Linked DNA regions of Homo sapiens. The protein of the gene in region 1 purifies or fractionates together with the protein of each later gene. This does not show direct contact. Each region holds a gene or a part of one and is shown in the gene's direction. Other genes may lie near its edges. The genes, in order: KLRC4, SLC22A5, TSPAN15, MFSD8, EDNRB, SLC47A1 and SLC12A7.

The links.
Region 2: the proteins of KLRC4 (region 1) and SLC22A5 purify together in Homo sapiens (affinity purification with mass spectrometry; one large-scale study listed by BioGRID and IntAct). This does not show direct contact.
Region 3: the proteins of KLRC4 (region 1) and TSPAN15 purify together in Homo sapiens (affinity purification with mass spectrometry; one large-scale study listed by BioGRID and IntAct). This does not show direct contact.
Region 4: the proteins of KLRC4 (region 1) and MFSD8 purify together in Homo sapiens (affinity purification with mass spectrometry; one large-scale study listed by BioGRID and IntAct). This does not show direct contact.
Region 5: the proteins of KLRC4 (region 1) and EDNRB purify together in Homo sapiens (affinity purification with mass spectrometry; one large-scale study listed by BioGRID and IntAct). This does not show direct contact.
Region 6: the proteins of KLRC4 (region 1) and SLC47A1 purify together in Homo sapiens (affinity purification with mass spectrometry; one large-scale study listed by BioGRID and IntAct). This does not show direct contact.
Region 7: the proteins of KLRC4 (region 1) and SLC12A7 purify together in Homo sapiens (affinity purification with mass spectrometry; one large-scale study listed by BioGRID and IntAct). This does not show direct contact.

The regions. Positions count from the first base shown.
Region 1 is NC_000012.12:10,406,613-10,411,565, reverse strand, and holds KLRC4 (NKG2-F type II integral membrane protein), read left to right. Parts: upstream 1-1,808; 5' UTR 1,809-1,990; coding exon 1,991-2,177; intron 2,178-2,555; coding exon 2,556-2,654; intron 2,655-3,183; coding exon 3,184-3,237; intron 3,238-3,776; coding exon 3,777-3,913; 3' UTR 3,914-4,182; downstream 4,183-4,953. UniProt on the Homo sapiens protein: May play a role as a receptor for the recognition of MHC class I HLA-E molecules by NK cells.
Region 2 is NC_000005.10:132,382,483-132,386,791, forward strand, and holds part of SLC22A5 (organic cation/carnitine transporter 2), read left to right. Parts: exon of another isoform or gene 1-1,664; coding exon 1,665-1,819; coding exon of another isoform or gene 1,820-1,838; intron 1,839-2,845; coding exon 2,846-3,017; intron 3,018-4,309. UniProt on the Homo sapiens protein: Sodium-ion dependent, high affinity carnitine transporter. Involved in the active cellular uptake of carnitine. Transports one sodium ion with one molecule of carnitine.
Region 3 is NC_000010.11:69,454,465-69,457,964, forward strand, and holds part of TSPAN15 (tetraspanin-15), read left to right. Parts: intron 1-3,500. UniProt on the Homo sapiens protein: Part of TspanC8 subgroup, composed of 6 members that interact with the transmembrane metalloprotease ADAM10.
Region 4 is NC_000004.12:127,958,121-127,962,429, reverse strand, and holds part of MFSD8 (major facilitator superfamily domain-containing protein 8), read left to right. Parts: intron 1-4,309. UniProt on the Homo sapiens protein: Outward-rectifying chloride channel involved in endolysosomal chloride homeostasis, membrane fusion and function. Conducts chloride currents up to hundreds of picoamperes.
Region 5 is NC_000013.11:77,911,956-77,916,264, reverse strand, and holds part of EDNRB (endothelin receptor type B isoform 1 precursor), read left to right. Parts: intron 1-4,309. UniProt on the Homo sapiens protein: Non-specific receptor for endothelin 1, 2, and 3. Mediates its action by association with G proteins that activate a phosphatidylinositol-calcium second messenger system.
Region 6 is NC_000017.11:19,564,589-19,568,897, forward strand, and holds part of SLC47A1 (multidrug and toxin extrusion protein 1), read left to right. Parts: exon of another isoform or gene 1-41; intron 42-2,201; coding exon 2,202-2,271; intron 2,272-2,507; coding exon 2,508-2,640; intron 2,641-4,309.
Region 7 is NC_000005.10:1,084,088-1,088,396, reverse strand, and holds part of SLC12A7 (solute carrier family 12 member 7), read left to right. Parts: intron 1-36; coding exon 37-91; intron 92-1,363; coding exon 1,364-1,494; intron 1,495-2,923; coding exon 2,924-3,165; intron 3,166-4,309. UniProt on the Homo sapiens protein: Mediates electroneutral potassium-chloride cotransport when activated by cell swelling. May mediate K(+) uptake into Deiters' cells in the cochlea and contribute to K(+) recycling in the inner ear.

The DNA.
Region 1 (4,953 bases):
GTCGCCCAGGCTGGAGTGCAGTGGCTCCCGATCTCAGCTCACTGCAAGCTACGCCTCCCGGGTTCAACCGTTCTCCTGCCTCAGCCTCCCAAGCAGCTACAGGCGCCCGCCACCACACCCGGCTAAGTTTTTGTATTTTTAGTAGAGACGGGGTTTCACCGGATCACAGATGTCTTTTGTGTCGTTAAGAGGTAACCTGACCTCTCCACTAAGGGGCGTGTGACTTTCTGATGACAGAAGGTATGTGTTGCTAGTCTCCTGTTTCTCTACTAGCTCATCTCCTTTAGTAGAAAATTGTAAATATTAAATGTGATGCAACAAGGTAAAGTTAATACAGAATAAAATCAAAGTAGAACTGTCTGTACATGAATAATTCAGGGTGAAAAGCAACCCAAAATATAATATATGTTTGAGGATTTCTTAAAGTATTTACATTATTGCCTGTGGAGAATTAGTCAAGCACATGCATACATCATAATAGGTTTGTTAATCAATATAATTTAGAGTGAAACCGATAAATATCACGACAATGAAGAATTAATTTGAAATTTTATAATCATTATAGATGTAATAATACTTTATATTTAGCCCAGACTTTAAAAATGCATTTTTAATGGATACATCAAATTGTGAATGTCAAACATAATTTCTCATACACATACTTATATTTAATTGAAGCAGATTTTATTTTTTTAAGAATGTAATAATGAAGTAGTTTCCATAAAATGCAAATCTAAACTTAATTATAAATAATAGGACGACCTAAAAAAAATTGAGCCAAACAAACATTGCAAAAAAGATGTACTACACTGACATGAGACTCCTACCTCATTAGTTATTTTACACACTCAGTATGAATTAGAAATAATAAAATGGCAATTGTGTTAAAAATAATTAAAATATCTAATATGTATTGAGGACTAATGTGTGCCAGGTTGTATGTTAAGGGTTTTATATACATTATACTTCATAAATTATTTTCCCCAATCTAGATTAGTAAACTGGTGTTGTAGACACCAAGTAACTTTGTAAAGGTCATGCATTATGAGTTTCAAAGCTGTAATTAATTTTAGGTCTCACTGGCTACAGAGCTCATTGACTAGATTATTAAATTATATTTTCTGATTTATTACAATTACTTACACAACCAAAGTGACCCTCGCTGCCTTTTAAAACAACCACAGGGTCTTTCTGAAAGTTTGAACTTAAAGTGTTCTTTCATAGATGGTCCAAACTTATATTTATCATTTTCAGTTTTCCTATTTTAGTCATTAAATCAATTACCAATCAATTCTGTAAAATAAAGAGTTAAATCTTTTTCAGTAGTATTTAGTTTATGCATAAGTTAATGTAATGTTTTACAAGGTATAAAATATTTCTTTAAAATTTTAACAATTTTTCTGTTTTCCTCAATCATTCAGAATAAAAAACATTTGCCAAGACCTCATGCCCTTTTAGTAAACGAATGTAAGTCACTAACTTAATGTATTTTAGTATTAAAAGTTGTTCTATATGCCAACAAATTATTCCTCCATCTTTAGCGCTCAATCCTTACATTAATGAATTTTAAAATTGTCATACAATTAGTGCATTTTATTTTCAAATTTCAATTTTAGTTTTTTACACAGGTATTCTATTGGTGATAAAATATTTCTGTAGAATCTGATTTTAAATTAATAAAGATATTTATATTCAGTTACTTCTTAGTTTTCACAAATGTATTGTTTTTTATTGTTCCCATTAATAATATTATGTCAAATATAGAAGGCCTTTTAAAAAGTGACCTATTGTTTAAAGAGATTTCAGTTTAAAACTTTAGGAAATTAGTACCAGACTTTTATATTGGTCAACAGCAAAATGAACATTACTACTCAGCCTCCAACACATGCAGTTTGCCTATACCAGGGATCCTGTCAAAATATACACCACTTATAGCTTCTTAAGTGCAGTTATCATAGAGCACAGTCCCTGACATCACACAGCTGCAGAGATGAATAAACAAAGAGGAACCTACTCAGAAGTGAGTCTGGCCCAGGACCCAAAGAGGCAGCAAAGGAAACTTAAGGGCAATAAAATCTCCATTTCAGGAACCAAACAGGAAATATTCCAAGTAGAATTAAACCTTCAAAATGCTTCTTCGGATCATCAAGGGAATGACAAGACATATCACTGCAAAGGTAAAACATTAAATAGATCTTCAATATTATTGTTCTAGGATGTGCAGTTGAATGCAGAAAGGTGGGGAAAGATTAGGGAATATTTTGCACTTGTGAGAATCAGAGGTCAAAGTCAGGATCTAATATTCTAATATGAAATCTGAAGCCTGATTTTATTCAGGCATTGTTCAATTGTAATTTGTGATTAACAACTCATGGAGCATTATATTTACTGATAATGAAATGGTATATTCTGAGAGAAAGATTACTAGAGTAGATGTAGATTTAGAGGACAGAGTTTATCATTATGTTTTCCTGTGCACGTGAGTTCTCTTGTACGTAAACCTTCTCATCAACTCTCTATCTCCCCTCTCTCAGTGCCTCTTTCTCTCCCTGCAGGTTTACTGCCACCTCCAGAGAAGCTCACTGCTGAGGTCCTAGGAATCATTTGCATTGTCCTGATGGCCACTGTGTTAAAAACAATAGTTCTTATTCCTTGTAAGCATATTCTTGAAAGATTATAAGGGAACTTTTCACTATAATGATTGGAAGCGCCTTGAAACATTTCATAATAATGAGGATTAGAATTCTCTGTTTAATGTATATCTCTGAACCCCAAGATAATATGCTGCTTCTGAACTTTTCAAATTTATAAATAACAGAATAATTGTAGAAAACATTTATTTTTTTGTGTGTACTAAATATATATGTATATATGATACACACACAGAGAGATGTATTCTGATTTCATGACTCAAAGACATGTTTTAAGAGAAAAAATATTTAGAAAAACAAATTAATTTTTGAAAGTGGTTAGATCAAATACTATAAGAGATGGTGAAGTTTTATGCTAATGGCTTTAAAAATATTTGTTTTAAAGATCTCATTATTTTTATAGAAAAGTCATTTTTATTTCAGATTGTTCCAATTTAAAATAATTTTAAATTTTGTATTTCAAAGTAAGCAACTGAATTTATTATAATTTGTCTAGATATTAATTTTGTAAGAATCACTTTAATTTTTCTAGGTATTGGAGTACTGGAGCAGAACAATTTTTCCCTGAATAGAAGAATGCAGAAAGGTACATTATGATTGTCAATGTTCTGATGTTAGTACAGTTTATATTTTGTCTCTAAAGGGATGCAAAATGATAATAAAATGTTTTGGGAAAATAAACTATAACAATGAGCCATAAATGTTTATAAAATAAAGATTATATGAGGGCATGTCCTTTTCTCCAATAATAAGTAGAAATGCTCAGTTAAAATCATTATACCCTCTTGTTGCATTTAATTAACTGAAATTTCCTACTACTATAAGATGATAAGAGATAAATAATTTTACTATACTTAAAAAGCAGTTTTGTTCAGTGATGTTTAAGATGTGTAGGGTGGATTTTTGTTGGCGGGCTTGTTTTGTATGGGAACACAATTAAGGGATGAGAGGTGGACCTTTTATTGTGCATGTGCGTATGAGTGACTCGTTATTTTAAAATATATATTTAACAACTTATGAGGATGCAGATATTGTGTACCTGTATGTTTATAGCTTTGCAAATATATAAAATAATTTTCATTTGTAAACATATTGTTTTGCATAGTAATTCATATTTTTATTTAGCACGTCATTGTGGCCATTGTCCTGAGGAGTGGATTACATATTCCAACAGTTGTTATTACATTGGTAAGGAAAGAAGAACTTGGGAAGAAAGAGTTTGCTGGCCTGTGCTTCGAAGAACTCTGATCTGCTTTCTATAGATAATGAGGAAGAAATGGTAAGACGTAAATGTTTCAACACTTTACTAAAAGCTTATTTCTGTCAATATCATATTTGTAGAAATCATCCATATGTTTATACATATATTTACTTCATATATTTTTAAGTCTGTGTAGTATTCAACTGACTTCATAATATTTTTATATTCATATACTGTTAATGCACATTTGGTTATTTCCAGTTTTGCTTTTCATGGAAACCCATGCTTCTATAAATGTTTTTATCACAAAATAAATATAAAGAAAACTAAGCATGTCATGGTCATGCATATTGATCACAAAGTGAATGGATTCATGATACAGGGCAGATCATGAAATAGAAGTTTCCAGCCCCAGCAGTCCTGCTCCTGTGTATGCCTTCCTCACTTTTCCTGCCTCCTCTCCAAACCTTTGTATTGATGTTTAATGTGATAAATAAGCTTTGCCTGTTCCAGAATTTATGTCAAGGGAATCATACAATGTGTATTTTCATGTGTGTCTTCTTTTACTCCTATATGATATTTGTGCAATAATGCAGTTAGCTGTTGTTTGTTGCTTTTCATTGCTGCATGATGTGCATAGAACATTTACAATCTGTTCAGTCCTGTGTCTCTGGATGGGGAAGTGAGTCTCGTGCCCTCAGGAACAAAGAGGAACCTGGATGGGCACGTGTAGTCATGCGGTTCCTTTGCTGATCCCTCTCACCGCACCTACCCTGATGTCTTTTGGTTTGGGAGGAGAAGCACTTCCTCTAGCTCCTAACTGGTAGCAGGCCTCCTGGTAGGTCATCCTTGCCAGTGGTACCAGGCTTGCCTAATGTTGCTGGCAGGACTCCCTTTCAATACAGAGTGGGAATGGGCTTAGCTGACCCACCTCCTGTTACCAGATTTGGTTCTGAGAAACAGAGGACTAGATCACTTTCTTCTGCTGAGTGGGGGACTGAAGATGCCCGGACACTCTGTTGATCCCTGATTCTGGGGTCCCAAACTATTTTGCCTTCCTCTTTCCACCTTTCAGAGTTTTCCTGTGTGTCTTTCATTACT
Region 2 (4,309 bases), on another chromosome or scaffold:
AGTGTTATTATAGGATTAATGTTGGTCTTCCGCACTATACTGTGAATATCATTGAGAGCTTGGTCCCTACACCTTAAATCCCCCATCGTCAACTATTTTTTCCCATCTCAGTGTCCCATGATCAAGGAGACCCTCCCTGAATGTCCAGTTCCCCAACCCTTACCCCCAGTCCAGGGTAGCTTCCTTCCTTGTGCCTCTCATTAACCTGCATGCCGATCCTTCAGTGCACTTGACTCAGTGTGTAATTGTATATTCAGTAGCGTGTTGTTAGATTAAAATGTGGTTAATATGTGTTTCACCAGTTATACTATGACACTCCTTAAGGGCAGAAACAGCATCTTTTTTAATTTATTGATATCCAAGTGCCCTCTATAATAGATGCTCAATAAACATTGAATGAAAGTGGGTGTCAGCCAGTACTGGCCAGACTCAAACTGAACCCACTGCTTCCCACTAGCTTGACTTTTTCCTCCTGTTTGTGGCACTCTCTTTAAAACAAACCAAAATAAACCCAATTTTAAAAACTTTTTAAAATGAGCACGGATACAGAAAACCACACAGAACAAATGTGTAGCTTAATGAATTTTTTTCAGAGAAATAACCTTATGACCACCACCAAGTCGAGCAGTAGAACTTTGCTGTCCACTAAGAAGCCCTGTCCATGTGCCCCATCCCAATTACAGCATCCTCTCTCTCTCCCCATTAAGTAACCGCTAGCCTGACTCCTGTAATAATCACTTCCTTGTGAGTTTTTTTAGTTTTATTATCGAAATATGCATCCTTGACACAAATTTAGTGTTGCCCACTTAATATATTTGATGTCTTTTAGTCTACTTAATCTATGGATTCTCCTTCTATCGCCTTCTATGCCTTACTGATTATCTATGAAGAACCTGAGCTATTCCACCTATAGAATTTCCCAGTCTGGATTTGTTGATTGCACACTGATGATGCAGTTCAGCACATTCCTCTATGCTCTGCATTTCCTCAAAATTGGCAGTTGGATCCAGAGACTTGAGATTCAGGTTCTGATTCAGGTTCAGTCCTTTTGGCCAGACCATAGGAAGCATGCAATTCCTGACTGTCTCTTTATGATGTTAACAGTAATTAGTATATAATGCATAGATCTATTAATCCATTGGGGGCTATAAATGGTATTATTCTAATTTTATTACCTTTTCATTTAAAAGTTAGAATACTTTTGTACATGATACTACCTCTTATCTATTATTGGTTGCTGTTCACATAGTTTACAAAGGAAAATCAGGACAAATGTTTCTTTCTCTTTATTTGCCAGTTTTCATTTATAATGAATTGTTTCTCTGTTATTCTCCAAATTTGGCAGATTCTTTTTTAAAAAAAATATCATTATGAATGTATGGATTAAATAATTGATGTATTTCAGTCTCTTGCAATCATTATCATAATTGTAGCATTGCTTTTTAGGCAACCCTGGTACCCAGGCTGTACATTTGTCATGGGGAGTGGGGAGGGGGAGAAATAGCATGGGCACTGTGAGACCGAGACTGTCCCTGGCAGCCAGTATTCTGGCAACACTGTTCACACCCACTTACTGGATGGATCTTGAGAAAGCCCCACTTGGTGGAGCCCATTCCTGCTGCCCTTTTCCAGCTGGTTATCTGTCACTCTCCTTTTCTTCCCAGGTTTGGCCGGAAGAATGTGCTGTTCGTGACCATGGGCATGCAGACAGGCTTCAGCTTCCTGCAGATCTTCTCGAAGAATTTTGAGATGTTTGTCGTGCTGTTTGTCCTTGTAGGCATGGGCCAGATCTCCAACTATGTGGCAGCATTTGTCCTGGGTATGGCCATCAGGTTGGAGTTGAGTACTTGATCCTGTATTTCACCATCATCCCATCACCTACCTTTCTGGAGACAACTGTGATGTCCCTCAAGGGGGACAGGGTTTCTAACAAAACTAGCCAGAGCTTCCTGGTGAACCTTACTTACAGGCAGGGAAACTGAGCCAGACATGAGACCAGCCTGGGGTCCCCAGCAGCACAATGGCCTGACTTCTGATTTCCAGTTCTTTTCTGGCCTCTGGGCTGTGGCTCCTTGGTCTTAGTACTTGATGGTCAATTTACTAGGACTCACCAGAGATCCTCCATTTACAAAAAGGGCCTGCCACTGCACAGGGCTGAGCCAGCCCCAGAAAGAGGGCGGCATGGTTGGAGGAGGAGGGGCTGTGACTGGCAAGCTTGCTAAGGTAGAGAACCCCTTGTCTGCAGAGCACTGTGGCTGGTGATATCTACGGACAAGAATAAATTGATAGGAAGGGGCTTTCGTCACCTTCAGGGTTTTAATTCAGAGTGCACACTGCAGGGCTTTGTCTCAAATGTGCCAGCCTGTTGTCACTGAGAAGCTGCCAGGCCGGCCTGTGTTTGGAGGAACCTGACTCTAGCTGATAAGGCCTTTGAGTTCCTTGGGTTGTATTGTTGAAAGGGTTGTTTTTTCTTTTTATATTTAATATTCTTTCCTTGAGGCTTAAGTCAGCATGTGCTGACTTAGTAATGACTTCACTTTTAATAAATTCTTCCTCATGTGAGGATTAAAGGGGGCCTACCATGGCATCTTTAGCACATGGCTTCAGAACATGGCGAAATTTTCAAGAGAGAACTGTTGCTTGGGGGCCTGAGAGGCCACAGGGATGTACCCCCAGGAGACAGTCAGACAGGAGGGGTTCAGAACGCCATCCGCTCCCTAGCGCCATGAACTTAGAGAGAGTTCTCGCTGTTTTCTTGTCTGTGTATTCACAAAGATACCATAAAAAATTAATAAGGAAGGAACCCAAATTAAACTGCTAACTCGACCTCCCTTGTTTTGAACAGGGACAGAAATTCTTGGCAAGTCAGTTCGTATAATATTCTCTACGTTAGGAGTGTGCATATTTTATGCATTTGGCTACATGGTGCTGCCACTGTTTGCTTACTTCATCCGAGACTGGCGGATGCTGCTGGTGGCGCTGACGATGCCGGGGGTGCTATGCGTGGCACTCTGGTGGTGAGTGTGACCTTGTGCCCCATGTGCCCACTGGCAGGATGATTTCTGTCTGGCCTTCACTAGAGGGCAGCAACAACCCATGAATCCCTATTTTGTCTCCCAGAGACAGGAAGCATAGATTATAAATTATTTCAGAATGTTTTCTCCACACTCAAAAGAGCCAAAACAAAACAGAATCCCATGACAGCAACAGACTTGCTCTCAGCCCTGTGCTGGGTTGCCCCAAGTGTGGGGAAAAATAGCAGTAGCTGTGAGAAGATGGGGTCCAGCATGCCCTGTAGGAAGTTCCCAAGCCTCAGGGCAGGACAGTGTAGGCCCTAGTTCTGGCTGTGTGCTGCTGAAGCCTCATGCCACAGGCACTGGCACCAAAAGCAAGAGTCCTCAGGGTAGCCACATGGAGGAAGCCAGGCTCCTTCTGCACCACCAAGGTAGAGGAGTTGAACAGGCAGAGAAGAGGCCATTCCAGACCAAGAGGGGAACACTGCAGAGGTGCTAAGGTGGGAATCACCCCTTGCAGGTGGAGAAGGTGAGATCACCAGCCCAAGTGGAGCAGAGAGCATTTCAGGGCATAGTGGGAGAGTAAGCCGCACATCATGGGGCCCAGTCATGACCGAGGGTGGGGGGCGGCTACCTGGTCCCAGCAAGGTGGAAAATAATATCCATAGAGCACTCAAGTGCCTTGATAAACATGCTAATTTTTTTCCTTTTTTTCTTTTCTTTTTCTTTTCTTTTTTTTTCTTTTTTTTTTCTCAGACAAAGTCTCTGTTGCCCAGGCTGTAGTGCAGTGGCGTGATTTCCACTTACTGCAACCTCCGCCTCCCCAGTTCAAGCGATTCTCATGTCTCAGCCTCCCGAGTAGCTGGGACTACAGGTGCCTGCCACCACACTTGGCTAATTTTTTTTGTATTTCTTTGGAGAGACGGGTTTCACTGCGTTGGCCAGGCTGGTCTGGAACTCCTAGCCTCAAATGATCCACCGGCCTTGGCCTCCTAAAGTGCTGGGATTATAGGAGTGAACCACTGCACCTGGCCAAACATGCTATTTTAGGTAGAGTATCTGACTAATCTGTTGGATAAATCAGGGGTAGGGTGAGGAGAGAAGAGAAGCTAAAAGGCCAGTGCAGAAGCTTCTGTTGGTGCCGGGGACAGGGAGGAGAGTGTAGCAGGGCCTGGGCTGACATAGACATGCACAGAAGCCAGGCTTCCGGAGCCCATCTTGCACCCATCTCCTCAGCCCAGCAGATGGCAACACTGCTCTTCAGAAATGGAGGTGGCCAGCCAGCATGGGGATGC
Region 3 (3,500 bases), on another chromosome or scaffold:
CTGACATCGTGCCACGGCACTGTAGTTGGGTGACAGTGTAAGACTCGGTTTAAAAAAAAAAATTACTATTGACCAGGCATTGTGGCTCATGCCTGTAATCCTAGCACTTTGGAAGGCCAAGATGGGCAGATTGCTTGAACCTGGGAGTTCGAGACCAGCCTGGGCAACATGATGAAACTCTGTCTCTACTAAAAATACAAAAATTAGCTGGGCGTGGTGGCATGCACCTGTAGTCACAGCTACTTGGGAGGCTGAGGTAGGAGGATCACCTGAGCTCAGGAGACGGAGGTTGAAGTGAGTTGAGATTGTGCCACTGCACTCCAGCCTGCATGAGACTCTGTTGCAGAAAATAAAAAATAAAAAATAAATTACTACTGATAGAAATGCATGCATGGGCTTGTTACAAAATTTAGAAGTAGAAAAGGGTAAGGCCGGGTGAGGTGTAATCCCAGCACTTTGGGAGGCTGAGGCGGGCGGATCGTGAGGTTAAGAGATCAAGACCGTCCTGGCCAACATGGCGGAACCCCGTCTTTACTAAAAATACAAAAATTAGCTGGGTATGGTGGCGTGTGCCTGTAGTTTCAGCTACAGCGAGGGCTGAGGTGGAGAAACGCTAGAACCCGGGAAGCGGAGGTTGCAGTGAGCCTAGATAGCGCCACTGCATTCCAGCCTGGTGACAGTCTCAAAAAAAAAAAAAAAAAAAAGGAAAGGGTAGTGGTTAGTGACAAGCCTCCCCTCCTACCCCTCTCTCCTGGCCTGCCCAGTCCAGAGGAGGCCTTTGTTATCAGTTTCCTGTCACTCTTTTCTGAGCTATCGTAGTCAAAGGATGTCCTAGGACAAACATATGTATATTTAAAATAAGGTAGCACACTATACACAGAACTACGTATGTAGCCCCTCTTTCACTTAAATTTAAATCCACGTGAATTATGGAGATCTGCTAGGAGCTGCCTCATTCTGTGTGTTGGCTACATAGATTCCACTCTAGGCTATGCCACATTTATTTAATAGTCCCCAGCTGGGGAACTCTTAGGTTGTTCCCAGTCTTTCTTTCCCTCTCTTTCTTTCTCTTTCTTTCTTTCTTCTCTCTCTCTCTTTCTTTCTTTCTCTTTTCTTTCTTTCTTTCTCTTTCTTTCTTTCTTTCTCTCTCTCTCTCTCTCTCCCCCCCCCGTCTCTTTCTTTCTTCCTTTCTTTCTTTCACTGAGAACAGTGACACAGTGAGTATCTCTGAATGTGTCATTTTGCATGGGTGTATATGTCTGTGGAGTAATTCTAGGAGTGGGGTTGTTGAGTTAAGGGGTATATGAATATATGTTATACATGCAGACACGCACCTGCCATCAGTATATACAGCTTGATGAGTTTTCACAAAGTGAACACACCTGTACACTGAGCCCCCAGGTCAACCAGCAGAATGGACAGCAGAAGGCAGATACCCCTCAAACCCTCTTCTAGGCACTATCTCTTACCTTTGTGGGTGATCACCACTGGATTATCTAGCAGTATAGAATAGCTTTGCCTGTTTTTGTATGTGCATTTAACATTTTGATGTTATTAAATTGTCCTATATAGAGGTGACACCAATTGTAATATTATTTACTTAATATGTTTATTTAAATTTACTTACTTTTTTTTTTTTTTGAGACAGAGCCTCGCTCTTTCACCTAGACTGGAGTACAATGGTGTGATCTTGGCTCACTGCAGCCTCTGCCTTCCAGGCTCAAGCGATTCTCCTGCCTCAGCCTCCCGAGTAGCTAGGACTACAGGCGCCTACTACCACGATGGGCTAATTTTTGTATTTTTGGTAGAGACGGGGTTCTACCATGTTGACCAGACTGTCTCGACCTCCTGACCTTAAATGATCCACCAGCCTGGGCCTCCCAAAGTGCTGGGATTACAGGCGTGAGTCACTGTGTCCAGCCTAAACTTCCTTTTTAAACTTAAATTTCTTTTCCTTTTTTTCCCTTTTTTAAAGTATATATTTTTTATTTTCCAGGCACATAGGTTCAAGTTGCCCTGAATATGCACGCCTTTAAATTTATTTTTAAAAGGAGGCTTTATATCAGTATTATGAATGGGAAACCAAGACGCCCATCATAAATAGCAGGTAAAGGTTTAAAATAAGTACAGTACAGGGAAAACAAAACAATGATACTAAATCCTAGCTGGATGTCATGGGTGCTGAAGGCTGTGACCCTGACGCCTACCCTCTCTGTTCAAAAGGTAGGTTGGCAAGTGCTTGAGGGGCTGAAAGACAAACTAGCACCCAAACTGAGACCCGCTCCTTGATGCAATCGGAGGGGTCGAAAGGGCATTGAACGAGGAAAGCTCAGTCTGTAAGTCCCTATGATAGGTATACCCCTAAACCACTTATGGTTATCTGTCCCACACTCAGGGCCCTCTTGTTTTCGGCAGGGAACTTTGGGGCTGCAAAAGGGTGTGTTTGAGGCTCACTTGTCAGAGCTGGCATGTACCCCAGGTCCCTGCATCCTCAGGTAGGTGCTCCTTGGCCCTTCCAGTAAGTCATGGGGATGTCTGCGGGAGAAATGAGCTCACGCTGAGGCACTTAGAGCCTCCTTTTCCCACCACACAGGGTGAATCATTCTGACACATGCGCCCTCAGCCCATTGGGGACACACCTCTAATTTTAGCACTGCCCACGGGGTATCTTAGAGATCCGTTTACAGGACTGCTTTTCCTTGCTGGACTGTGGGCTCCCAGAGGTCAGGATTGTAGTTCATCCATATCCTCCTCTGAATGCTGCCCCTGGGGCCTGTGCACACAGTAGGTGCTCAGGGGAGGCATGTTGCATGATGGTGATTGAGTCCCACTTGTACCTACAAGGCGAGGATCCAGCTTGGGGCAGAGGCCTGGCTGGGGGTGTAACCCGCAGTGGTCAGGTCTGCTGAGGCCTTGACTTTGCAAAGTGGGCAGGGCTGATCATGGTGCTACGGACTCTCCACAGAGCACCAAGCCTGTTTCCTTGATAACAGGGTAGGACTTTCAAGTGGGTAAAGGTGTCATGGCTGGGGAGTGTTGACTAATCAGGAAGAAAAGGACTTGGTGGGAGTTGGGGGCAAGTAGGGAGGAGCTGAGGGTGGGTAGGTGGTGGAGGCAGCAAATGCCAGAGGCAATAGGAACTCTTTCTGGGCTTTCTCCAAGGATGAACCTGCTTATTAGAGCTTGGCCTGTGATTTCTTACATTTCTTATAGTTTAATGGTTAAGAGTGTGGGCTGTGTACCAGGTTGCCTGGGTTCAAATCCCAGCTCTGACACTTAAAGGTTAAGTGGCCTAGACATAACTTCCATGCACCTAACCTACCTGAAGAGTTGCTAAGCAGATTAGATGGATTAATACATCTGAAGAGCTTAGAGTGGTGCCTGGCACATGATGAACACTCCATCAACTAGTCATGGATTAGTCGTTCTTTTCCTGCCTTCCTCTCTAGCCTTGCTGCTCAAGAGCCATAGACTAAGAATGAGAAGGGCTGTTAAAGACA
Region 4 (4,309 bases), on another chromosome or scaffold:
GTGGTGCGATTTTGGCTCACTGCCACCTCTGCCTCCCAGGTTCAAGCGATTCTCCTGCCTCAGCTTCTGGAGTAGCTGGGATTAACAGACGTGGGCCACCAGACACGGCTAATTTTTGTATTTTTGGTAAAGACAGGGTTTCACCAGGTGGCCAGGCTGATCTGGAACTCCTGACCTCAAGTGATCCACCCACCTCAGCCTCCCAAAGTGCTGGTGTAGAAGCAAACAGTCCCAAATGTCTCAATAGGCTCTGAGGCCCGTTGCTATACTTTTTAAGTACTTACGTCTGCTTTTTAGTTTTTCTGACAGACTGTTTTCCTCGCAGACTGTTCTGCATCATGTTTTTGAAATCTGGCAGCAACAGTTGTTTTATTGTTGTTGCTGTCACCATACTCTTTCCACCAGCTTTAATTTGGGGCTTCTTGTTTGTTATAGCTTTGATAACCCTGGATCTATGCTTAATGTAACTGTGTGTCATTACAACCTGGTAGTTCTGACTGAGAGCTAAATGTCTTTCCTACTAGTTAAGTGCATAAGCTTGAGTGCGTGGACTTCATGACATTTGGTTTTCTCAGAACTCAGAAATTCTTTTTTTTTTTTTTTTTTTTTGAGACGGAGTCTCGCTCTGTCACCCAGGCTGGAGTGCAGTGGCGCAATCTCGGCTCACTGCAAGCTCCGCCTCCCGGGTTCACGCCATTCTTCTGCCTCAGCCTCCCGAGTAGAGTAGCTGGGACTACAGGCGCCCGTCACCACGCCGGGCTAATTTTTTTTGTATTTTTAGTAGAGACGGGGTTTCACCGTGTTAGCCAGGATGGTCTCGATCTCCTGACCTCGTGATCCGCCCGCCTCGGCCTCCCAAAGTGCTGGGATTACAGGTGTGAGCCACCGTGCCCGGCCTCAGAATTCTTTTTGCTTCGTCCTGGTTTTTAGCTATTTTCCAGATAATTGCAGGATCCCTGAGTTATGTTTAAATGTGGTCTTCTGGTACATTCTGTCACCTTGTACAAAAGAGAATTTTTTTTCATACTCTTAGCTTTGATTTCATCAAAGTGATTGATGCTCATTAGGATCTGTCCAGATTTAGGTGTTCCTGCCAATAATCAATACCTCTGATTGAGGTTCTAGATTTAGCATTTTAAAAACAAAAAGGGAGTATTTTGAAAATAATAAGTATATGTCTTTAAAAACAAGTATATTCCCTAGTAAAGTGAACCTATGTACAACTAGTTGGCAGGACCTGTTCACTTTGAATATATTGCACAAACATGTCTAGGTCACCACCAACTTTTCCTCACTAACAAGGTTGATTATTATTTGCTGGTCTGGTGGAGCTGGCCTCTTGAATCCTCAGTGCTCCCCACTGACCCCCTCTATGGAGCTTTATTTAAGACAACAGGGGTTGGAAAACATTTCCTGTAAAGTCCCAGATTGTAAATATTTTAGGCTTGTTTAGGGCAAGGGGAAAAATCAAGGATATTATATAGGTGTTTAGATAACCAGAAAACAAATTCCACAAAATTTTTTAGTAATGACATTTAAAATATAATAATAAGTATAATATAGGTTTGTTAATGAAAGGGATAGAATTTGGTGGGGGAGGGGATGACATTTTCCTTAATTGCACTTCAGAGTTGGTGTTTTCTGTCATCAAACTGATAAATATTCATCTGTAAAAACCGTTTGTAGCTCACGTTACTGATCCAAGTTACAAATGATTTCAAAATTTTTTTGCAACCTTAGCCTAGTCTCTGTAAAATTTGTATTATTAGGGCATCTGTCCTTATAGGGCATATCTTTATAGAATATTTTCAGTTTATTTCTGTAACTGTTATACCACTACACTGTTCTGTCACTGAGCACACACTTCTTTCTTTTCTCTCTCTTATTTATTTATTTATTTTTTTGAGACAGACTGTCTGTTGCCCAGGCTGGAGTGCAGTGGCACAATCTCTGCTCACTGCAACCTCTGCCTCCCAGGTTCAAGTGATTCTCCTGCCTCAGCCTCCTAAGTAGCTGGGGCTACAGGCATCCACCACCACGCCTGGCTAATTTTTGTATTTTTAGTAGAGACAGGGTTTCACCATGTTGGCCAGGCTGATCTTGAACTCCTGACCTCAAGCAGTCTGCCCGGCTTTGGCCTCCCAAAGTGCTGGGATTACAGGCATGAGCCACTGCGCCTGGCCGTTGTTAAATTTTATCTAACTCATTTTGCTGATCAGTTCACTCCACTATATTGTGTATTCCTTTTAGTTTTTAAGTCACAAGTTTGACAAGCATGCTATCATTTGGAGTATTTCAGTTTGTAATAGAAATGTTGAACAGGATAAAACTGTAGTACTACAGTTTTACTGGAAGGAAAATCTCAAATGGGGAACTAATGCCAGAATGCAGCAGTGATTATAGAAAGGAATTTTAAAAGTTAAGCAAATCATCTTAGAAATGCAGCATTCCTTTTTGTACCCGGTCATACAAGAAAGAAGCCTCTGGAAATTCAATCAGATATGTGACATATTTGTCTGAATCATCAAAGCTAAGAAAATGTAATAAATATGGTCACTTGATTGAAGGACAGTTGCATTCTCCTATATTTCTACTGTCTCCAACAAGGTAGAAAGATAATTTTTTTCATTGAAGTTATACTTTTTTAATTAAAAAAGGAAAAAGTAAATCTTTTTATTTTGAAAAATGTTAAATCTATAGAAAAGATGAAAAAATCACGAACACCTGTATATCCTGTCACTAACTGTTAGCCTTTTCCACACTGCCGAAATCTTTCGGCAGGTACATACACACCCACACGCACCTCTTTTGCCAAACTACCCAAAAGTAGGTTGCAGACATTGTGATACTTTGTCCCAAGTACTTAATTGCAGCTTGCACCTCCCAAGAACAAAGAAATTCTTTTACGCAACTCCATCACTGTTACAACTAGAAATACAATATTAATTCAAGAATATCATGCAATACATAGTTAATACTCAAGTTTTTCCAATTGTTCCAAAAATATACCTTATATTCTTTAAAAAAACAAAAATAAAAAAAACCAGGAGCCATATGCAGGAGATAATCAATGTTTATGCATTTGTTGTTAGGTCTTTTTAGACTCCCCTAACCTAAAACTATCCTTTGACCTATCTCTTTCTTGTCACCATTAAAATCTTTGAAGAGTCTAGGTCAGGTTTTCTGCAGAACATCTAATATTCTGGATTTATGGACTGTTTATTTCAAAATAGATCCTGGTCAAACATTTCTGGCAAGAATATCACATGGGTTATGTTGAGAACACCCCACTACATTACATCAAAAGGTACAGGATGCCAGGACATCCCACTACTGGGAATGCCAAACATGACCACTTGTTAAGAGGGTGACTGCTATATCTTTCAATTATAAAGGTTCATGTTCCATTTTGTAATTAGTAAGCAGACACTGGGGTGACATTTGAGGGCCTTTGACTATCCTCTCCTTAACAATCTTCCAGTCAGTTGTTTTAGCATCCATTGATGATCCTTCCATTATAGCATAGAAAGTGGCCATTAAATTATTATTTTCTAATTTTATCCTTTCAATATTTAATAATTGTCATTTGTCATTAAAAGAAGAAAGATTTTGTCTGAGCTCTAAATCAGTCACTCAAACAATTTTATTATTTTTTTAGAATCAAATAATTTACTTCTTGATTCCCTAACTTAGATATATCTGGTTTTTTATTCAAATTCTAGTATATTGATTTCAAAGTATGGGCATCTAGGGTTCTGGTATTTTTCTCAGGTAAGCTACATTATTTTTATTTTTTTCTTATCTCCTTTGACTCAGAAGAGGTTTGTTTATATGGAATGACATATATAGTGTTAAACACTTTAAATATATTAGGAACTAATATGTTTGGCATATAATACATCTAAAAACATTGTTTCTCTTCTTCCTTTCCTCTTTACCACTCCCAACCATATCACGTTTGAAAAAAAAAAGTTTCTTTTTTGAAGACTAATTTGACAGTTCTAAGGCTTATTTTTAAGAAATTAATCTTGGAACATAAGAAGGCATTTTGTCTGTTCTGCATGTCTTGATTATTTGAAAAGATAATGCTCACGTTAAGGTGAACTTGTTAACTCTTTCTATTGTGTGTGTGAAAATGTAATGAGTATATAGACTCATGTGTCACCTAATGGAGGTAAGATATCTACTTAGTATACATGCCTTTGGTCCAGATCAGACGCTTATCCAAAAGATCACTTAAGTCTGGGGAGTCATGGTCTCTCTTTGGTCTGCTGATAAAATTTATCTGGTAACCCATTTAGGAGGTCCC
Region 5 (4,309 bases), on another chromosome or scaffold:
GTGATAAATTTAAAATAAATCTAACAAGATCTCTTCCCAAAGGGAGATTAAAATCTAGTTTTGCTAGGTTGGCACAGGATTTTATGAAAGTTCTGTTTAGGGGGTCAGGAAACCCCACATGTCCAGCCCAGTTAGAAACCTTTCTAAATCAGACAGTAGCTGAAGTGCTGTGTAGAAGGTGGGATTGAGAACATTTTTTTAGTTCTGGTGTGCTGCCTCCAGGACAGATATAAATCAGCTCTTCCAGAACCATCTTATTTCCTCTGTCTGGTTAAATGAGTATTTGTAATAAACTAGAGAATTTCTGACTCCCCAAGAGGTCATACAGTTTCCCTTTCATTTCAAACTCCCATATGATTTCCCTAGGAAGTTACATCCTTTTCCCTGAAGCCATCCAGTCTTAACATGACTGTGTTTTTACTTCTGAAATAAGCCAATGAGTCATTATAAATCTGTCCATCCATTAATCTACATGGGTCACAAACACATTCATCACATTACGTCCCATCACTAAGGTCATCATTATTGAATCCTACCTTGTGGCCTTAGGTTTAGCTTGAGACACAATATCATAATAATGGCTACCAGTTAATGATGCACTAGGCACTTGGTTTATTTCATTAAGTCACTATAACAACCCTGTAGAGGAGGTATCGTTATCATTCCTGCTTTAGATCTAGGCAAACTACTTGTCAGAGAGGTGAAGAAGTAACTTGCCTAATGTCATACCACTACAAAGTAATGAAACTGGGGCTTGAAAGCAGATCATCCAGCCCAAGACCCTGTGGTCCACCCCATCCCACTGCACAAAGCATGCTCAGGCACTGCATGGTCATCTCCAACCTTGAGTATTGTTTTAGGATCTCATTTGGGAGCATTTGGTGGAATTATGGCAAATAATATGCTATCCCACAGTAGAATACTTGGTAAACATTTTCAGAAATTAATTTGAGTCAGGATTTCGGTCTCTTGAAACCCCCTTCAGCTGGTCTGTAGTGTGTAATATCAGTGGAAGTTATTCTAATGGCTTAATTTACCAAAATATCAAATCCAGGACCAGTTAAAAGCCATTTATTCTCCTAAATAATTGTGGCAACGTAGTTTTTTTAATGCATTTAGAATTTCAGAGTAGTCAGGTATGATCATTCAGAAAAAAGTAATTTAAATGAGTTATGAAGGCTATATTTAATATATCCTAATATGAGAGGCTTAAATCTAAACCAGTGATTTCTAATTTTTTTGGTGGGGTTTTATAATTCTCTTTGAGAATTCAATATACACAATTTCTGGGGGTTTGTGAAATTCTCCTACTCTCTTGTTGGCACACTAAGGGCCCAGAGGCCCAGAAATGTCAATGTGAATCTATTCCATTAATCTAGAGTTTAATGAATATAGAGTTCAGTAAAGTTGACAAATCACAAAATGTCATAGCTCTTATTGGAAGCTACAGTCTTCAGGCTGTGGAATTGGTGGGACTTTATCTGGAGTTGCTGCAGTGGGAAGCTGAAAAGCATTGGGAAACATGTCTGATCTGCCTGGACTTCCTCAAGGAGCTGGGTCCCTGGAAACTTTTAGGAAGAATCATACCACTCTCACAGGTCTCCTGTGTTGTGGGTGAAATCCTGTGTTGAAGGCTAGGGAAGTGTCTGAGGACACTTAGCAAGTTGAGGCTGCTGAAGAACTTTAAACTCATGTAAACATGCAGAAAATAATAAGCGTTGCTTACGCTTCTCATAGGCACACACTAGGGCTATGCCTACATTACACAACACCAACCAGAAGAACAATGAAAACTTCAGGCATCCAAAGGAGATATTTATTTAAATATATATGCACGTGTACATGTACATACATTAAAATGTTAAGTTTTATAAGAATATATAAGTAAAAAGATGACTATCATTTGGCACAGGGCATGGCATATAGCAAGAAATGATAAATGTTATTAAAATGTGTGTATGTGTGTGTATGTGCGTTTTGAGTATTCTTTGTTTTCCAGCTTTTGTCGTGACAAACATGACTACAAACGACATGTTTGTACATATGGCTTTGCACACATGTGTGACTACATCTGAAGGGTAAATTTTTATAACTGGAATTATTAAATCAAAATGTGTGTGCATTGTAATTTTGAAAGATATTGCCATATTGTGCTAGAAAGTTATTCTTGTACTCTTGGTATTAATCACTATTTTATATAATATCTCAATATGGATGTAAATGCATATTAATGTTTATCTGTAATATGTATATGGGCCACCATGCTTAATATTTACATAGTCTACATATACATCAGAACCAAAAGCCAGTGCTTGACTACCTGACGTTAGGATGAATTTCTCCTTATTCACAAGCTACTTATTTTGCCCTTCCTATATATCCTAAAATAAATGGGGTAATCTAGATATTTGTTCACATGAGAGCCTGGTGTTCCACTACTAAGTTGTAGAAGCATAGATATCAAAGCTGGATAAAAAGCAAGACAGCCGGGTATACTTGGGGATGCTATCAATGTGTTTATGTTGTTGTTTGGTTGGTTAGTTGATTTGGCTTGGTTTGCTTTGGCAATGATATTTAACAAAACTTGGTTGTAGGTTGGGAGAAGTTAAAAATTCTTGAGCAAATAGTGAGTTCTTAAATTACTTCTGAATTTTATTAACTCTCTTTATGTTATATTTACATGGATAACTGAGTTAAAGAAGTTAGCTCTCAAATATAGCTTCCTTTATGTGTAAAGAAATTGCATTTAAAAACAAATCTACTTGCAAACTGATAAGACAAATACCAATATCCACATTAACTAGTTTGGTAAGGATCCAAAGGTAATCAGGTGTCCAGTGGTGATGGAGAGCTAGAAATTAGGCTGGTGACCCACTGGAGTGCTTCTAGATGGTTTTACAGTTAAGAACTGTAGGCTACTATTAGAGGCAAAGAGGCTGCATTCATAGTTCTGAAAGGCAAAACTGCTGATCTTTAACGTTTAACTAGTTAAGGGTGGGAACATATAACATTAAAATGCTGGTATGTCAAAATGCGGAATTGCTTCACTGAACCCACAAATGAGTTTCGAGTGAAGTGACCTTGGCAGGTAATCAGACATTTTCTGCTTGTGACACAATCAGGATTATCTTTCTGAACAAATTTACCTTTTGCACTATCCTCTTAGACTACTTCTGGTACTTAACAAGTTTATGTATAATTAACTAGTTTTGTAGTTAAAAGTAAAAGTTGATGGAACACCACCAACTTTTGAAGTTATAATTTTCCAGTCAGTAAACTGAAGTATATTCACATATTCCAATCAGTAAACTGAAGCATATGCATATATAGCAACACAAGAAGTAAGGGTATCATTGGGAGAGGAGTCTAATTTATCCCAGTTTAATAACAATGTTCTCATTTCCAGTCAAGTAACTGAAATATTTTAGTAATATTTAAAGATATTTTACCAGCATAAGCATTCTGAACCAAAAGTGGAACCTGTATGATTTATGTAAAGCAAAATAATTTTTAAGGAGCACCAATTAAGTGCATTTAAAGTATTAACTTTTAAAACGTGTTAATTAAAAGCCAGGCTTTTAGCTTGAATGACCTGGAATCAGTTAACAATACAGCAAATACCCTGACACCCATCTATCATAGTGGCTGCAACTGTCAATACTACACAAATGCTTCAGACAAATGATGTTATACAGAAGACATAAGAGTAGTGGGCTTTTTCCACTCATATTTTTACTGATGTCCAAATGAAAAAGAAAAAGAAAGCTTGATTCCTTCTGTATTAAAGTATTGTCATAGTCAGATAACAGGTTGATAGCAGAATTCAAATCAACCAGAAACTCAGACTTCATATTCCCAATTCACTGTTTCACATGTTGGTCATAGATTTCTGTGACAAAATGGTCAGTAAGCACTTGGCCTTGGGCAATGCAAGGTTCCCTAGGTTCAATTTGATGGTATTTCTTGTGTGTGCCTTTGATCTGCCACTTGGTCACTCCGTAAATCCAAGCCTCTACAAATGTCAAGGTAAGGTTTTCTTTCAATATGGTAAGGCTTATCTATCAAAAGGTTTACATTTCTCAGTTTGCTCATTTAAAATGAGTCTTTCAAGATTGAAGATATTTCCATAGTTGTACAAAAGGATAACGTAGCCAAGACCCTGTTGTCTCCAGGCCAGGGAGCCATGTTCTTCAATTCACAAAGAAAACCATATAAGGGTATCTCTGTGTAGCTAATATGCTATAGTTGATTATTTTTAGAGAAACATGCCAAATGCTAATAAATGATTAAGTTCTTTAAAGGGTGTTGA
Region 6 (4,309 bases), on another chromosome or scaffold:
CTTGTTCATATTGTTCCATTTTTTGACCATGTGCATGTTACCTATTCAAAAAATAAAATTTGAATAAAATAATTATATTTCTGTCCTTTTTGGTGAGGAGGAAGTGATCATCTTGTTCAGTGCTGGATTTCTTTTCTTTTCTTTTTTTTGAGATGGAGTTTCGCTCTTGTTGCCCAGGCTGGAGTGCAATGGCACGATCTCGGCTCATCGCAATCTCCGCCTCCTGGTTTCAAGTGATTCTCCTGCCTCAGCCTCCCGAGTAGCTGGGATTACAGGCATGCACCACCACACCTGCTAATTTTGTATTTTTAGAAGAGATGGGAGTTCTCCATGTTGGTCAGGCTGGTCTCGAACTCACCACCTCAGGTGATCTGCCTGCCTTGGCCTCCCAAAGTGCAGGGATTACAGGCATGAGCCACCACTCCTGGGCCAGTGCTGGATTTCTTATTTAGTAATTAAACAAGTATTTATTGGGAGACAGTCTTCTAGGTTCTAGTTTAGAGTGACAAAACTCACTCCAAGGGTGTTGTGAATTTCCTGCTTCCCCAGGTCAGGGCAGCATTTTTCTCATCTCCCTTCACATGCAGAGGTTAGAATCCAAGTCTCTAGCTTTAGGGGTTCCATTTCTAGGAACCAAGGATAATTCTGCAGAATATATCTATGGCCTTTACCAACCTTCGTTCCATAGAGGGAACTTAATTTTTACTCTGTAGTGCTTCACTGAGGCTTACTAGGAGACACAGTCAGACTTGGCCTGTGGCATCATCTTAAAAGAAGGATGATCATAGCATCCAAACTTGCCGGGATGATAGGTGCGTGCCACTGTGCCCAGCCAAACTTCTTTTCAGCTGATGGGGAACGGGGGAGGGATGTCACCAAATCCCTTGATTTGTCTACACTGACCAGATGGACTATGCGGTAACCCCTCTTTATCCTTGGTTTTGCTTTCCAAGGTTTAGTCACCTGCAGTCAATTTTGGTCTGAAAATCTTTTTTTTTTTTTTTTTTTTTGAGATGGACTCTCGCTCTGTCGCCCAGGCTGGAGTGCAGTGGCATGATCTCAGCTCACTGCGAGCTCTGCCTCCCAGGTTCACGCCATTCTCCTGTCTCAGCCTCCCCAGCAGCTGGGACTACAGGCGCCCGCCACCACGCCCGGCTAATTTTTTTGTATTTTTAGTAGAGACGGGGTTTCACCATGTTAGCCAGGATGGTCTCGATCTCCTGACCTTGTGATCCGCCCGCCTCGGCCTCCCAAAGTGCTGGAATTACAGGCGTGAGCCACCGTGCCTGGTGGTCTGAAAATCTTAAGTGGAAAATTCCAGAAATAAACAATTCATAAGTTTTCAATTGCGTGCGGTTATGAGTATTAGGAGGAAATCTCACGTCCCGCCTGGGACATGAAATCATCCCTTTGTCCAACATCTCCACGCTGTGTGTGCTTTCCACCCGCTAGTTATTTCAGATTGACTGTTTTGGTATCACAGTGCTAGTAATCCCAAAGCACAAAAGTAGTGATGCTGGCATGTGGTTATGGCCTACTTTATTACTACTGTTGTTACTCTCTTACTGTGCCCAAATTATGAATTAACATTATCATAATGTATTTGTGTATAAGGAAAACACAATGTATTTAGGGTTCAGTCCTCTCTGCGATTTCAGGCATCCACTGGGGGACTTGAAACATATCTCTTGAAGACAAGGGTGTGGTGCTGCCTATTTTTTCTAAAAGCTGTGAGATACAACATGCAGTTAGTTTCCTCTATGGACCCAGCAACAGGTGAACTGTCCCTGACTAGGCTGCTGGCCTCAATGCATGTGCATGTCTGTAATATGCAGAAAGCTATATACTTTTTTTTTTAAGACAGTCTCGCTCTGTCATTCAGGCTGAAGTGCAGTGATGAGATCTCAGCTCACTGCAACCTCTGCCTCCCGGGTTCAAGCGATTCTCCTGCCTCAGCCTCCTGAGTAGCTGGGATTACAGGTACCCACCACCAGGCCTGGCTAATTTTATATTTTTAGTAGATACGGGGTTTCACCATGTTGGCCAGGCTGGTCTCAAACTCCTGACCTCAGGTGATCCTCCCGCCTCAGCCTCCCAAAGTGCTGAGATTACAGGCATGAGCCACTGCGCCTAGCCAGAAAGCTATATACTTCTTTCTCCACTTTGTCTCCTAATCACCACGTGCTTTATTTTCCTAACAGAGACATCATTAATCTGGTGGCTCAGGTGGTTCCAATTTATGCTGTTTCCCACCTCTTTGAAGCTCTTGCTGTAAGTATTATGTAGTAGTCCCCTAAGCACTGTTATGATCTTCTGATGGTGGTAAATTTCAGCTGAGAGGAGGGGCCAGCATAGGTAGGAAGATTGAATATTGTTACCACATTTCGTTTAGAAGGATACTGTCACCTTACCATGGATTTTAGCACAGAATATGAAGTGCTCGGGAGATGGGAGTGTTTCAAGAGCGCCGGATGTGTTCACAGTGATGGAATGCTCTCTGCCTGCAGTGCACGAGTGGTGGTGTTCTGAGGGGGAGTGGAAATCAGAAGGTTGGAGCCATTGTGAATACCATTGGGTACTATGTGGTTGGCCTCCCCATCGGGATCGCGCTGATGTTTGCAACCACACTTGGAGTGATGGGTAAGCTCTAACCTCTGCAGGCAGGGCTTAGCTGCTCACCAGCCCAGGAAATGACCGTCGGAGCACACGGGTCTTTGACTGAGGCTCACCTCTGAAACTCGGGAGCTCGCCCACGTCCATTCTGTGTCTTGTCAGAGAGTGTAGGGGGCGTTCAGGAGGTGACCTCCAGCTCTAGCCAGGGCCCCAAGGCTATGTGGTCCTGCCCCTCACACCCCTGCGGGCGATCTTCCACGCTGACACACTTGAGCACAGATGCCCTTTCTACCAACCTCCTATCCTGAGTCATCCAGCCCTCACTTCTCTAAAGGAGGCAACAGCAGGGACCGCTGAAGAAGCATTTGGAAGCATCCCCTTAGTGTGTTTCGTGCTGTTCTTTAGAGACAGCATGTGAGCCCCTGAGGGTGACTCTGCAGGGCCAGGGCTATCGTAGGCGGTCCTGCGTGCGTGGGGTGCTGCAGGGTCTGCACTCACGGTGGCACTCTGCATCCTAGAGCAGTGCCCCATGTGCTCACCAAGCAGCATGGCTGGATCCTTGGAGGGCAATGGGTGGCCAGTGCCCTTCTCATCACCCTCATCGCACTCCGCAGCCTCCACCTCCCTCCTTGTGCAGCCTTAGCTCTGTGCCCCCACAGAGCTCCCCACAAGGCCATACACGTGGTCGGTGTGAACAGCACAGAAGGAAGGGGGCGGACTTGAGCACCTTCCCACATTTGGAAGAAAAAACTTAATCCACAGCATCTGAAATTACCAGAGCTAATCTTTTTAAAAAGTACGGAAATAAATGACTGCCCAGCTTTGATTTCTAAAATAATAATTTGGAACATATTGGCAGTTAATAAATGATGATATGAAAACCTGGACATTTATCTTTGGGGTGAGTAGTGACTGACTTAAAGCGTGGCTTGTTTTGATTCATCTGTACTTGGCAGGCTCAGAGGTGGTGAGAAGTCAACTGATACCTACAGGGAACTTCCAGTTCAGTATGTTCCTTTATGTGGCACATTTTTCTCAAGTTCAATAATATTTTAATTAAAAATACAGGAGTTGTTCAAAGAATAGTATTGCCAATGCAAAGTTCATTGGGCTTGCATGATAGTGCAGAAAATTATTTAGCTGAGTTTCTGGTGCGATTCATAGTTTGGATTTGCCAATTGCCTAGCTAATGCAAATATTATAGAAATCTAATTTATTTTTATTTTTAAAGTAATGTATTTTATGTAACACAATATGTCTAAAATTATTGCAACGTGCAATCAGTATAAAATATTAAGGAAATAATTTAAATTCTCTATATTATATCTTTTAAACTTTAAATTGACAAATTATAGTTGTATACATTTATGGGGTACAGTGTGGTGTTTTGATATATGTATAAAATGTGGAATGATTAAATTAAGCTAATTAACATACTTATCACCACTTATTTTTTATGGTGAGACATTTGAAATTTACTTAGTTAATTCAAAATGTGCAGTACATTGACTACAGTCACCCTGGTGTGCAATTGATCTCAAAACTTATTCTTCCTGTCTATCAGAAATTTGTACCTTAACAACTCCCCATTCCCATGCCCTCCCCTCCTTGCCACCAGTCCCTGCTAACCATCATTCTACTCTCTACTTCTATGAGTTCAACTTTTTTAGAAGAGGAGTCTACTTTATTCTCCTGT
Region 7 (4,309 bases), on another chromosome or scaffold:
AAAACTCTCCTCAGATGGCTGCCTGTCTTTTTGCAGACAATGCTGACCGCCATTTCCATGAGTGCGATCGCTACCAACGGTGTGGTCCCAGGTAAGGGGTGCCCGCCAGCCGCGGCCCTGAGTCCTGTTAGAGGAGTCTGTGTTTTGCCGCACGGCAACCGCGAGGAGGCCGCTTGGCGAGGCCGGGCCGGGGGCTGCCTGGGGGTCTCAGCCGGGCCTTCTGCGTGTTCTCCACTGGCTCCTCTGGCGTTTGAGCCGTGAGGTCACGGCTGTTTGGTTTTCTTCCCCATTTTGCTGCGTGGTGACCGTCTCTTGCCAGGGTAGGCAGTGCCCACCAGGCAGCGGGCTGGGGAGGGGGAGGCACGGGCGATTCCAGTGGCTCCTGTAGCCCAGCGTGTGCCATAGGCTGAGTTCTTGGAACCTGTATCTCACGAGGGAAGGTGAAGACAAAACACTGCCCTGACCTTGTTAATTAGTAATAAGTTAATTACAATACATAATAACTAAATAACTAGTGAACCGAGATGATATTAATTAGTAATAAGTTAATTACAATACGTAATAACTAGTAAACTGAGATGATACTGTTAATTAGTAATAAACGAATTACGATACGAAATAACTAGTGAACGGAGACGCTGCCACGTCTGCTTCTGAGTGCATGTGTGCTGCGCGTGTTAACGGCTGGGCTTGCTCAGCACCAGGTCCTCACGCAGCTGGTCCCCATCCCCACGGGGGCATCGCTTGGTGCTCAGCGGACTTCCCCGGCCTCAGGAGAGCACGAGGGCCTTCACCAGGGGTCTCCCTCCGCAGCCAAGGGACCAGTCTCTGCTTCACGATGGCCGCGTCCATTAGGACCCCTTCCACATGCCACACGCACTGCTCAGAGCAGGGAGAGCTGTGTTCTCCAGGCAGCCCTGGGGTTGCGCCCGGCTTTCCCGCCAGTGATAGCGTGCGTGGTTCACAGTACACGAGACGACTCCTGAACATCCTAGTTTCTCTTTTGCCTTTTTCATAAGCAAAACTTAGTGGAAGTGGGGGCTGGGGCTGCCACTGATGTACGCGGGACTTTTTCTGGGACCTGCTGGGGCCTCCTGCTCCCCAGAGAGCCTTATCCCTGATCTCACCTGGTCCTCATGTCCATGAGAGCGCGTGCTCTTGGTGTGGAACGTGTGCCGAGCCTCGGGAGGGGAGAGTTCACCGTGGAAGCGTCTCCATGTGCTGCTTTGCGGGTGGACGAGGGTCTACACGCTGCCTTCGCAGAGACAGGCCCTCCTTTGCCCGTGAATGGCAGCGCAGACCGCACCTCGGGTCCGAGTCCAAGTGCGCCCCTGACCCGCGGCTGCCGCCTTTGTCTCCGCAGCTGGCGGGTCCTACTACATGATATCGCGCTCGCTGGGACCCGAGTTTGGAGGCGCTGTCGGCCTCTGCTTCTACCTGGGCACGACGTTTGCAGGGGCCATGTATATTTTGGGGACCATCGAGATTTTTCTGGTAAGTGTGCTGCTTTGGAAGGGTTCCCACCCCACAGTCTGTGGCAGGATGCCAAGGGGCCCTGCCTGACCCACTCTGTGGCACACACAGCACACTGAGCCATCCTGACCCCACTGCCCTGGCTGCCCCTGGGCTCTCCTGGGCTCTGGCCATGGCGGAAGCCACTGGGCAGCGTCCACTCAGCAGCGACCTGTGTCCCCCTTGAGCACCATTGCTGCCCTCCGTGAGGCGTGCCTGGCATGAGCTGGGTAGACATCTGGACTGTAGATCTGAGCCCCGCGTAGGTGCAGTCCTGCAGTCGGAGCTGTTTTAGGAGCAGGGCTGGAACTCGGCTTAGAAGAACCTTTTGCCAGGATCCCAGCCTCTTCTCTGCCTGATCTGGGCACTTGGCCGAGGGTCCCAGAGCCCAGCAATGTACAACCAGGTGATGTCATCACCTTCTCAAAACAGGCATGCTCAAAGCATGTCCCACATCACCTGAGCACAGCTGAGAGCTGTGGCCTGAGTTCCTTGGTCCTCGTGGGGACGGGAACCGCCCTTCTCTGGCCGACGGGTGCTGTCCTTCCTGCTGAGGTTCTGAAACCCGCTGTCCCTGCAGGGCTTCAGAGACGCTCACCTGAGCCCCTGTCCCCAGTCTTTCTGCCCCTCCCTCTGCTGCCAGACCTGGTTCCTGGCCTCCTGGGTTCCTGAAGAGAGCCACATGGCCAAGAAGGTTCTGAAACCTTTCAGTGGGGTCGCACCCACACCCGTCCCAACCCGAGTCCCCTGGCCATGTCCCTCCATCTTTCCACCTGCCCCGGGTGCCGTGGCTGCCGCACTCCCAGGATCCCCTTTGGTGGGGGTGGGTGCCATGCCCTCCATGCCTGCTGCACCCCAGTCCTGTCCTGGTCTTGAGGGAGCTGAGCAGCACTGTCTCACGTCTCCGTCCCTTCCCTTGAATCTGGGCAGAACAGAGGTTGCCCCCCGCCGGCGTGGTCAGACCCTGTGTGTGTCCAGGACGTCCAGCCGGGGTGGGCCGAGCTCTCTGGGCAGCAGTCACATTCCTCTTAGCAGAAGGTGTTTCTTTTGAGTGCGGACATGCGGATGCCCCGGGTCCTGAAGTTGCTTTACTCTAAGGCTCCCGGGTGGTTCCTGGGAAACGTTCAGGCCCCTGGCTGTCCATGGCCTGTGCGCTGACCCCCGCGGGCTCCGTCCCTCGCCTGTGCGCTGACCCCCGCGGGCTCCGTCCCTCGCCTGTGCGCTGACCCCCGCGGGCTCCGTCCCTTGCCTGTGCGCTGACCCCCGCGGGCTCCGTCCAGCACGGATGCGTCCCGATGGCCCCGGCACCTGTTGGGAGGAGGCCCCTGTGTGGCGCTGGGGGCTTGCGGGAGGGACGGGCACTGGGGAGTTGTGTCCGGGGACGGCCTCCCGACCGGCCTTGTTCCCACAGACGTACATCTCCCCGGGTGCGGCCATCTTCCAGGCGGAGGCTGCAGGTGGCGAGGCGGCCGCCATGCTGCACAACATGCGTGTGTACGGCACGTGCACGCTCGTGCTCATGGCCCTGGTGGTCTTCGTGGGCGTCAAGTATGTCAACAAGCTGGCGCTGGTCTTCCTGGCCTGCGTCGTGCTGTCCATCCTGGCCATCTATGCCGGCGTCATCAAGTCTGCCTTCGACCCCCCGGACATCCCGTGAGTCTCGGGGCCTCTGAGCCGTGGGTGGGTGTGGGGCTGGGGCCAGGTCCCATGGGCTCTGCCCGCCTCTCGTCCATCATCCTTGACGCCGAGCTCCCCGCAAGGGGTGGGCTGGGTGTGACCGTGGCGGGAACCCCCGTGGGCTCGTTCTGGGGATTACAGGAAACCCAACGGTGAGGTGGGCCGAGGTACCCTCGTGGCCGGGTCTGAGCATGAAGACCCTCCTCAGTGGCAGGAGGGCTGGTGAGGGGTCTGGCAGGTTTCAGGGGTGGCCGGTGGCCCTGAGCACGGTCAGGTGCAGTGAGCGTCATGGGTGTGGCCCTGGCTGCTGCTGGGGCCTGGGTGTCTTCTCCCTCCCAGAGGTGCTTGGAGGGGCTCTTTTCTTGTCCTTTTGGAGGAGCAGCTGGGAGGCGGCCCAGGGTCCTGGAACATGGGAGTGGCCACCAGAGCCCGCAGGGAGCAGGTCCAGAAAGGGCCAGCAGCCAAGCCCCTTGAGGCTCCCGCGGTTTTGCCGTCTCTGCGTGGAGGGAGCCCCTGAAGGAACAGCCTCATAGAGGCCTCAAAACAGAGGGAGGCAGAACAGCTGCAACCCCACAAGCCCGTTTTAGGGAAGCACAGCTGCCCTCCCCCTCGGGGACCCGTCCTGAGACCCCCTGCCGATGCTTGACGCTACGGCCCTGTGTAGACTGTTTTCCACGTACAGGCCTGGCTTATACGTCGGGGGCGGCACTCCTGTGCTCTTGGCCGTTGGCACGTGGCACGAGGGTGGCTTGAACTCAGACACTGAGATTGTGACAGCTGACCCGGCCAGGACGCCGCCGAGGGCCTCGGGGAGGGAGCGGCTGCAGCGTGGCTGTGCTGGCGCGGGGGGAGGTTGCTGGGTTCCACCTCACTACTCGGCACCGCGCGGTGGAAAACGTGTGAATTGTTTACGTCTAGAACGCTTCATTTAGCACGTTTGGACCACGGGTGGCCGAACCATGGATGAGGGGACGGCTGTACAGTACAGCGTTCCTGCTGCAGCCTGGCCTGGTCCCCGGTCCCTGGTCCCCAGTCCCCGGTCCCCAGTGTGATCCCTGGCCCTTGCATTCCTGCTGCAGCCTGGCCTGGGCCCGGTCCCTGGCGTGATCTGTGGCCTTCC